Regions from separate parts of the Homo sapiens genome. Here region 2 is linked to region 1. Evidence: fine-mapped expression QTL. A gene starts in region 1. The other region holds a variant in brackets. All regions are shown on one strand. Distances are between the middles of the regions. Region 1 holds the start of NINJ2 (ninjurin 2). Region 2 overlaps NINJ2 (ninjurin 2).

What was found. PIP is the estimated chance that this variant, and not a neighbour inherited with it, causes the effect. A credible set is the group of variants that fine-mapping cannot tell apart.
Region 2: its variant is the best candidate, but not a certain one, in a credible set for the expression of NINJ2 in monocytes (TOPMed, PIP 0.68).

The regions. Positions count from the first base shown.
Region 1 is chr12:660,739-666,114 of GRCh38, forward strand. It overlaps NINJ2 (ninjurin 2), which reads right to left and starts at 2,707. Exons shown (of 4, transcript NM_016533.6): 1 at 2,590-2,707. The coding sequence starts at 2,622.
Region 2 is chr12:602,764-608,139 of GRCh38, forward strand. The region is part of intron 1 of NINJ2 (ninjurin 2); the gene reads right to left. Among named protein-coding and RNA genes, the nearest start is that of NINJ2-AS1, 25 kb to the right of the region's middle. The variant T/G (reference allele first, on the strand shown) is at 2,647.

The DNA of each region.
Region 1 (5,376 bases):
TCATTTGAGGTCAGGAGTGCAAGACTAGCCTGGCCAATATGATGAAACCCTGTCTCTACTAAAAATATGAAAATTAGCCAAGTGTGGTGGTACATGCCTATAATCCCAGCTACTTGGGAAGCTGAGGCAGGAGAATCACTTGAACCCAGGAGGCGGAGGTTGCAGTGAGCTGAGATTTTGCCACTACACTCCACCCTAGGCGACAGAGTGAGACTCCATCTCAAAAAAAACTGTAAAAATAAACATTATAATAAAAAGCTGTCAGCCATTGATGTACCTTTACCACCCATTGGTGATAATTGTACCACATTTTGGGGAAACATTGTTTTAACTAAAGAGTGTTATTGTTTTGTTTTTAGAGATAGGGTCTGGCTCTGCCGCCCAGGCTGGAGTGCAATGGCATGATTGTAGCTCACTGCAACCTTGAACTCCTGGCTTCAAACAATCCTCCCACCTCAGCCTCCCGAGTAGTGGGGACTACAGGTGCATGCCACCATGCCTAGCTAATTACTTTTAAATTTTTAATAGAGATAGGGTCTTGCTATGTTGCCCAGGCTGATCTCTAGCTCTTGAGCTCAAGTGATCCTCCTGCCTCAGCCTCCAAAATGCTAGGATTACAGGCGTAGGCCACCGTGCCCAGCCAAAGGTGGACAATAAATTGTAGAAAATAATGGATAACCTTCTGAGCAAAGGAAAATGTAAGATACAAGAATTAAATAGCATATTAGAAGAGAGTGAATGACAAATGAAGAGAAAGGTACACTAACACCTCAGTTACCTGCTAGAGAGAGACATTCATCCAGCCTAGCCAGTCATTTCCTTCTCCTTCCTCCCACCACCTCTTTCCTTCTGAACCTCTGGTTCAGATGCAGAGTCCTTAGCCTGTAACTCTGGATCGTTCAACCCATCAGCACATAAGAAACTTGCTCTTCTGAGAATGAAAATAAGCAGCAACACAATTTCCTTAACAACCAAGGATCTTATAGAGGCAAGAACTAGAAGTAAGAAGAAAACACATACTAGGGACAGAAGACATGGACTGGAGGTCTTGGGCCAATTAGGTGACCTTATTCCTATCTCAGAGCCTCTCCAACTCATGGCTTCCTCAACTCATTCATTTAACAAATGTTTTCTAAAGCAATGACCGTGTACCAAGAGTTGCCTCATGCACTCGGGCTGCAGCAGTGAATAAAACAGGAGAGGCCCTGCCCTCAGAGATCTTGTGTCCTAGTGAGAGTGACAGGCAATACATACTAAATAAATAAGCAGTGTAACTTTAGGTGGTGAGCAGTGCTATGAAAGAAATTAAACAAATGATAAAGACAAATTGGGGAGGAGGCATCCTGTGAAGAGGTTGGTCAGGGGAGGGCTCCTGGGGGAAGTAACATTTGAGCTGAGACCTGAATGTACTAGGAAGGGCCAGCCAGGAGATAAGCCAGGGAAAGAAGGTTCCAGACAGAGGGACAAGCAAGCCTTGCGGTGGGACCGCTCTCGGGGCTGGCTGCCAATCCAGGAAAACAGCACTGGGTATGCAGTTGTACTAGGTGAATGGTTTTGACACAGCACACCAAGCAGTCCTACAGTTCCCTGGTGGTGTCTCAAGGGCGGAGGGGCCAAGGACAGAGACTCTGCCAGACTCACGCCACCCTGCCCAAAACACACACAGAGAACGAGAGAGAGAGAGAGAGAGAGAGACGCGTGCACATACTCTGCTTCAACAAAACAGCTCTTCTTTAATCCGAAGTGTATATTGGGTGGCTGCTTAAGATTTTGTTCGAGGACCAGGTTCAGGGATCAGAAATTCTTGATCTCAAAAGTCCTTTTCCACACTTTGTTTGATTCTCTGCAATGTTACACAGCCTCAGCAGTGGTCATAGAAGGGTTCGTTCTATTCTATCCATTGGCAAGGAGTCACAGAGTGCAGCTCCCAGCAATCTGGCTCTCCTCTCACCGTAACATCCCACCCTTTCCCCTCCAGCAGTGGACTGGAACCTCTGATGCCTTCCAAGCCCATCCCAGCTACAGAGGGACACACATCTCTGCCTCTTCCTAGGAGATTAGACTGATTTCCTTTCCTTGCACTGTCCAAATGAGACGCTTTCTGTCCTACACAGTAGAGCTTTGTGAAGACAGCCGAGAAACGGCTCAAGTTTTTTCCAACCTGTAAAATGCAAAGTTGGCCAGCTGCCTCTCTTCCTAGCCTCAAAACTCATATATTTCCTGTCTCCCCGGCAGCTCTAAGAGAAGTCTCTACTGTCCTGGGGTTTGGGGAAAGCACTGCTCAGAATGTGAAATCATTTTCTGGTAATACGGATCTAATTAGCTCTTTGACTGACAAGAGGAAGCAGAGGCCAAAAGGGAGTTAACCAATCTGTTTTTCAGATATTTCAAAACAAGTGAAGAACCAGATAGGGAAACAGAGAGAAAGAGAAAATAAAGAGACAAAGCCTAGGGAGCATTTGGAGAAGGGAGTGAGTAAGAAGAGAACGGGGAGGGAGAATATCAAGTGACTAAAGTATCAATCCTCTGTTCTTCCAGCTTCACCTCTACTCCCGGTCTCCCCTCTGCTCTCTTCCAGAGAGAACTTACTTGAAGGTCGATGTTTTCTCTTGCTGATTCCATCTCGCTGCCCTCAAGTCCCTTCACACGCACCGGGTGCCGGGAACAGACTGCGTGGGCTCCTCCAGGCTCCGCCGTCTGAGTCTCTGCTGCTTTCTTCGGGTGGGAGAGAGCACACAGCTGGCGGGACAGACCTGCCATTCATCCCTCTGATGTGGGATGCCCGTCTTGGCTGCAGCCTCTGGGGGAGGTGTGCACCTGCACACACGTGTGAGTGTATGTGTGTGCACATGTGTGTGCTCCAGGAGGTGGCACATGGCACACTGATAGGTGACCTTTTGAGTTGGTAGTGACAGCATCATTTTCACCAGTGGCTCCAGTGACCTTCCAGTCCCAGCGGAGCCATCTGAGGTCACCCAGCCTGCTTTGAGCTAGTAGCTTTATGACTGGCAAAGAAATCCTGCATGTTTATCAAGCAAATTGAAAAACAGCCTGAGGACAACGCTATCTGACTTCACCGCTGGGTCCAGTCCCCAGTCGCCACGGGTGGAGTGACCTCCAGCACAGTCTCAATACTGAGGCAGAGGGATTTCCGTTGTTCTTTGCTTTGTTCCCTATATCCCTAAAAGTTTTTAAAAAAATTGTAGTTTACCTAATAGGCTCCAAAGCATAGGCTTTGTTCTGCAAAGTGAGTGAACAATACGTTTTTACTGACGGATTGTTTGATTCCTTCAACTCCTCCCTTGATTAGCCATAGAGGGAGCAGGGAGTAGTTGTACCTTCGAAGCTTGTTTATGCAAACAGTGGTATTCTCCCTACTTTTAAAATAAAATTACCAGGAGGGAGTCTTTTTTTAGAAAGTTTTTTTTTTCCTCTCCTGTTTACCTTAGAGCCCAAAACTCTTCTGGCTTGTTCCTGAAGCAAGGTTTAGACACAAGCTTGTGCAGGTGTGGGTGTGGGTATGTCTGTAGACGTGCATGGCAGGGTGTTAACCTGTAATCCAATTCAGGGCTTGAAGAGGTGCGGGCAGGAGGAAGACAGGCAGAGTCAACACGTTTACCCTCACCACATTCAAATGTAAAAAAAAAAAAAGGCGATTTCTTCAGTTCTATGAAATGCCTTTATAAGTTCCCATCCCTCTGGACAGTGGTGCGAGGGAGGGTTGGATGATTGGATGGGGGCCATATTTTAGTCTAATCTATGAAGCATAGTTGGATTTAATCATTTAAATGGTAAACAGTCCACTTTAGACACAATGCTCAGTCTTTCGGATTTGCAGAAGATGGCACCTAGGTGCACAGGAGGGCGGGGTGGGGACGGTTCTTGCATCTATCCTGTGGCCTCTCCATCTCGGCTCCTTTCTGTTCTGGAGCTGCTGGGCCCACGGGCCCGCCCGAATTGCTGACTGCTGAGGAGACACAGGTCCTGCTCCTGGGTCTTCTGCTGGCCTTGGTGGCTGATGTCTGATATTAGGCCAGAGTCACTCATGGGTGATTCTCTTTCTGCCTTTGAGATCCAGTGTTCTCCCTTGCTGTCTGCGCTACCTTGGCTCGTGGCAATGTGGACCATCCTGAGACCTGGCTTTGACTTGTATGTGCCCCCATCCCACTGTATCCGCTCAGTGGCCCACATCTCTAAGATAAGCCCCTCGAAATTTTCCTGTGAGATGCTTGACCAGTGCTCCTGAGCCCCCTTAGGCACATGGGGACTGAGGGCTGCTGACGAAGGGCAGGGGAAAGGCAAGCTCAGCCCCACTTCCAGCAGAGTTTGCTCTGATGTGGCTGCTCCAACTGACACAGGGCAGTCTGCGAGGTGATCTCCTTCCACATTCCTGAATGGAAATGAGACCTGGAACCCACTCTTCTCAGCACTCCTTAAAAAGTCTACCAGTAATATCTATCACCCCACCGCTCATAATAATACCACTATGTATCAAGCACTATTCTAAGCACTTTTTTTTTTTTGAGATGGAGTCTCGCTCTGTTGCACAAGCTGGAGTGCAGTGGCGCCATCTCGGCTCACTGCAACTTCTGCCTCCTGGGTTCAAACGATTCTCCTGCCTCAGCCTCCCGAGTAGCTGAGATTACTTCTTCCCATAGTCCCCTTAATCTAGAATCAGAAAATGTACGCTTTGTCTTCTTTTTTTTTTTTTTTTTCCTGTTTGGCTGGGATGTATCTGATGTAGAACTCTATGACAACAATTCAAAGGGAAATGAAGAAATTTAGAAAATCCTCTCTCTCAAGAAAACCTGGTTGTCAAAAATATTGTCTTGGCTGGGCAGCATGGCTCATACCTGTGATCCCAGCACTTCGGGAGGCCAAAGCCGGAGGATCTCTTGAGCCCAGGAGTTCAAGACCAGCTTGAGCAACATAGTGAGATCCCATCTGTAGAAGAACTTTTTGGCTGGACATGGTGGCTCACACCTGTAATCCCAGCATTGTGGGAAGTAGAGGCAGGAGGTCACTTGAGCCCAGGGGTTCAAGACCAGCCTGGGAAACACAGTGAGATCCTGTCTCTACAAAAAAAAAATTTTTTTTTAATTTAGCTAGATGTGGCAGCTTGCAGCACCTGTAGTCCCAGGTACTTGGGAGGCTGAGGTGGGAGGATTGCTTGAGCCTGGGAGCTGAAGGCTGCAGTGAGCTATGATCATGACACTGTACTCCAGCCTGAGTTGACAAAGCAAGACCATGTCTTAAAAAAAAAAAAAAACTTTCTGGAAAACCTTATTTCGGATGCCAGAAGCAAAATATTAACTATTTATTTCTCTTTGCACTCCTGTTGTGAAAATCCTCATTATCTTTTAAATAATATGGATA
Region 2 (5,376 bases), 58 kb before region 1:
TGCTATTACCTGCTTTTTTGAAAATAACAGTCCCCTAATGAGTGTAAAGTGCTGTCTCATTGTGGGTTTTCTTTTGCTTTATTTTTTGAGACAGGGTCTCACTCTGTTGCCCAGGCTGGAGTGCAGTGGTGCCATCATGGCTAACTGAAGCCTGGACCTCCTGAGCTCAAGTGATCCTCCCACCCCAACCTCTTGACTAGTTAGAGCTACAGGCACATGGCCACCATGCAAGCTAATTTTTAATTTTTTTTTTTGTAGAGATGAGATCTCACTATGTTGCCCAGGCTGGTCTTGAACTACTGGGCTCAAGCAATCCTTCTGCTTCCACCTCCAAAAGTGCTAGGATTTCAAGCATGAGCCACCACACTGGGCCTGTTTGCGGTTTTGAGTTTATATTTTCTTGCTGGCTAATGATGTTAAACATCTTTTCATGTGCTTATTGGCCATTTGTATATTTTCTTTGGAAAAATGTTTATTCAGCTCATTTGCCCTAAAATTTGATTATTTGTCTTTTTATTATAAAGTTGTAAGAGTGCTTTATATATTCTGTATACAAGTCCCTTATAAGATATATGATTTGTAAATATCTCTCCCATTATCTGGATTCTCTTTTCACTTCCTTGATGGTGCCATTTGAAACGCAACCTTTTTTAATATTCATGAAGCCCAATTTATTTTTCCTCTGTTACAGTGCTTTTGGTGTCATATCTAAGAAGGCTTTCCTGCATGACGGTTTACTTACATTTTGTTCTAAGAATTTTAGATTTTAGCTTTTACATTTAAGTCTATGATCCATTTTGAATTAATTTTTGCACATGGTATGAGGTAAGAGTCCAACTTTATTCTTTTCCATGTGGACATCCAGTTATCCCAGCACCATTTGTTGAAAAGACTATTCTTTTTCTTTTTTTTTTTGAGACGGAGTCTCAGCCTGTCACCCAGGCTGGAGTATAGTGGTGCAATCTTGGCTCAGTGCAACCTCTGCCTCCCAGGTTCAAGTGATCCTCCTGCCTCAACCCCCTGAGTAGCTGGGACTACAGGCACGCACCATCACACCTGGCTAATTTTTGTATTTTTAATAGAGACGGGGTTTTGCCATCTTGGCCAGTCTGGTTTCGAACTCCTGACCTCAAGTGATCTGCCTGCCTCAGCCTCCCAAAGTGCTGGGACTACAGGCATGAGTCACTGCGCCTGGCCAAAAAGACCATTCTTTCCCCCGCTGAGTCGTCATAGAATTGGTGTATATGTCTGTCCTTACGCCAGCATCACACTGACTTGATTACTGTAGCTTTGTAGTAAGTTTTCCTGTTGGGACGCGTGAGTCCTCCAGCCTTCTTTTTCAAGATCATTTGAGCTATTCTGGGTTCCTTGAAATTCCGCACAGTTCTAGGATCAGCTCTGCAAAGTCTGCTGGGGTTTTGATGGGAACCGCATTAAATCTGTAGACCAATTTGGGGAGTATCGCTATCTTAACAACAGTAAAGGGATTTTTTAAAGTATAAGCTGCGAGGACAAAATAGACTGGAAGAGGAAATAAGTAGAACGAGGAGTAGTAAATGAATGTCTTGGCCGAGCAATAGAGGCCACAGCCTGGCCGGGTGCGGTGGCTCACGCCTGTAATCCCAGCACTTTGGGAGGCTGAGGCGGGCGGATCACTTGAGGTCAGGAGTTCGAGACGAGCCTGGTCAACATGGTGAAACCCCGTCTCTACTAAAAATACAAAAATTAGCCGGGCGTGGTGGTGGGCACCTGTAATCCCAGCTACTCGGGAGGCTGAGGCACGAGAATCGCTTGAACCTGGGAGGCGGAGGCTGCAGTGAGCTGAGATGGCGCCACTGCTCTCCAGCCTGGGCGACAGAGCGAGACTCAGTCCCAACAACAACAACAATAGCAAAAAAAGCCACAGCCTGATGCTTGCAGGAAGGAACCAACAGGATACGAGGAATCCAGGAAGGCACTGGGTGTGGGGACACAAGTGCAAGGGAGGTAGGGACGAGGTACAGACCTGAGATGGAGGACGGGCTGAAAGTCTACTTACAGAGCAGTTCAACCCTCCGACTCCTTCACCACCCCTCAAAGCCTGTTGACAGATCCTCCCCAAGGCAAGTGACCAGAGGTTTGTTATTTTCCAGAGCAGTGCTCTTGCGGTGTGGTCCAGGAACTGGTTTAGGTCCACAAACTGTTAGTGGCCCCAGTAAGATAAGTACAGGAAGCAAGAATATGTGTTTAGGATTTTCACGGAAATTTGACGTTGCCTCAGCACTCAGTGTGTGATCAGTGGGTTCTCCTGGCTGAAGGATAGAGGCCAGTTTGGATGTCTGAACTCCCAGAGTGAGGCATGTGCCGTGTGAGATGCGGCCTACTCATGCCCAGCAGGACCACGTACATGTCCCTGACAGAATGGGAGTTTCAAAACTCCGCCTTCCCCACAGATAGTCTGCAAAGTGCTGCTCTAGAGGCTGGCAGGCTCGGCTGTGCATCATGGGGAGAGGGTTGAGGCAACTGCTGAAAATCTGCATTCAGAACACTGGGACACCCAGCTGTCCTCCCACTTTCATTCCTGAAAACTGGCAACTAGGCTTATACCCTTCCCCAACACCTATCCCCAGACAGAAGTCCAGATGATTCCTATCGGAAAAGACTACC[T/G]TGGGGCTGGGAATAGCGCATGTGCCTGTAGTCCCAGCTATTTGGGAGGCTGAGGCCGGAGGATCGCTTGAGCCCAGGAGTTCGAAGCTGCAGTGAGCTGTGATTGCACCACTGCGCTCCAGCCGGAGAGACAGAGCAAGACAAAAATAAAAAATAAAAGAGATGACATAATCTAGAGAGACAACATTAAGACACTGACATCTGGAGTCCACTCAGCAAAGAAGCTAACACCCACCCTACATTTCTGCATTGAAGCTCCCCAGCAAACAAGCCCTACCCATGCAGATAAAGCTTCACATAACCTGGAAGATGAGGGGTTTTGGGGTTTGTTTTTCGAATGGGTTCTATATTAATATGGTTCGGAACTCAAAAGATTCAAAAGGTACAATGAAAAGGTCCACTTTGTCCTTCACAACTTAGCTCTCCTTCCAGTAAGCTTTTTGGTGCCTCACTGTTTAATATACACAGAAAGCCTACATGAAAGATGGAGACCAAAATAAAGAAATAAGAGAAGAGACAGAGAGAATGTAGGGAGCAGAAGAAAAGTGCAAAAAAGGAAAAGAATAACATCTGCAGAGAAAAAAGAGAAGCTATTCCATCAATGTAATAAGAACTGTGTCTTATTTTAGTTTATTTATTATTTTTAAAAATTATTAATAGAGATGTTGCCCAGGCTTGTCTAGAACTCCTGGCCTCAAGCCATCTGCCTGCCTCAGCCTCCCAAAGTGCTGGGATTACAGGCATGAGCCACCTTGCCCAGCCAATATTCTATTTCAAAAAGGAATATTCGGAAACCAAAGAAAAGAGAACTCTTGGAAACTAAAAATATGAAATTAAAAATATAAAAATTAAAAATTCAACTTAAGATAGAGAAACGTTTATAAAATCTCATAGAAAGTAGAACAAAAAGATGATAGAGATAAAAAATTAGATACAAAAGACAAAACTAAAGGATCACATCAGAAGATCCAACATCCTAACACTGAGAGTTCAAGATGGGCTGAACAAAGAAAAGAGAAAGGCAAAAATTATTAAATAAACAATTCAGATGTTTTTTCTAGAGCAGAAAACATCAATTTTGGGGTCAAAAGGACTTACCAAGTGCCCTATATAATGAATGAGGAACAACTCACCCCAAGCCACATCATTGTCAGCTTTTGGAACTGGAGGTCAGAAGGAATCTAACAACTTCCAGACATGAGCTCCAGAGGACAGAGGAGTGAAATGGCACTCGATGTCACAGCAGCCACACTAGAAGCTACAATTCTATACTCAACCCACTAGCAATTGCGGGAAGACGGTTTAGGTAAGTTAGTCCACAAAAATTGTCCTTCCTTTGCTCACTTTCTTAGGGAGTTACTGGAAGGTGTGCGCCACCAAAATCAAGGAAGAAGACAAGGAACCCACAGGACTGTGGGCCGAGTTGCTTTGGCACTAAGCAGAACAGAGGGGAAAGGAAGAAAGAGTGGAGCAAAAGAAGGGAGGGAGAGAGGACGACGCTTTGAACTGGGTGCATGGAGAAAGCAGTCAGGAGACCAAGAGGTTCCTCCTGGCATTTGAATCCCCGGCCCCAACTCTTCCGGAGGCCCGGCTGCAATCCTGTCCTTTGGCTTTGTGAGACACCAGATACCCTTGTAATAAATTCCACTTCTTATTTAACTAGTTCACATTGCATTTCAGTCACTTGCAACCAAAAAATTTCTCCTGATATATTGCTACTCAAGGTATTAGAACCTGGGAGCTTGCTGGAAATGCAGAACCTCAGGCCTCCCCCAGATCTACTCAACCAGAATCTGCATTTTAGCAGGATTCCCAGGTGACTTACAGCCACATCAGAGTCTGAGAAGCACTGTCCTGATATATCCACCTTGCAAGGTAGGGTGGCGAGCATATTAGGGATAATAGGTAAAATATTTGACTACATAGTAGGTACTCTGTAAGGGATGATGATGATGATGATGATGATGATGACGACTGGAGTAGAAATACTTCGGAATTACAATCTCAGAAAGAGTTCCTGGGACCATGGCAAATGGTGGCTTTGCACCAAATTACAAAAGCAAGCACACAACCAAAAAGACAGAAAGCGCAATATCCCAAGAAACAGGTTCAGCTCTACTCCAGGAGCCTGTTGGGTTACTCAGCCCAGGTGTTGACATAGGAAAGCCATTAAGAAAACCCTTCTCAGGTGTGGCCATTGGCTGTGAGTGAGTGATTGACAGTCAGATCCGGTATGATGCTTGGCTGGGGGAATGCTGAGCTAATGCCACCTTTCTCAGTAGAGCAAGCATTCTGCCCCAGCACTCAGGAAGTAGGTCAGGAGGAGATATCCTGTGTGAGCAGCTCCAAATTGCTTTTTCAGGCAGAAACCTGTGGCCCACAGGACTGGGGGTGGAAGGGGAATGGGGATGAGAGGAGGCTGGGGGCCTGCTGCGGGGTGGAGATAGGAAATCACGTCCTCATTCTTGGCAGGAGCAAAGTTGCCTGTCACATAGTTTTCCTGGCTCCAGTCCTTTGGCCATCAGCCACCGTCTTTGTGCTGGGGGTTCCGTTGACTTTCCAGTGCAAGCCAATTTGATGGAAGCTGGGGCTTAAAAGGAAATGTGCGCTTGTAGGAGCTGGTGTTCCATCTGGGCCCTCGGTGTGCTGTGGATGGATGGAGGATGAGTATCCAAGGTCTGGATCTTCCCTAGGAGCTAGCGGTCATTGTTTTCGAATTGTCCACCAATT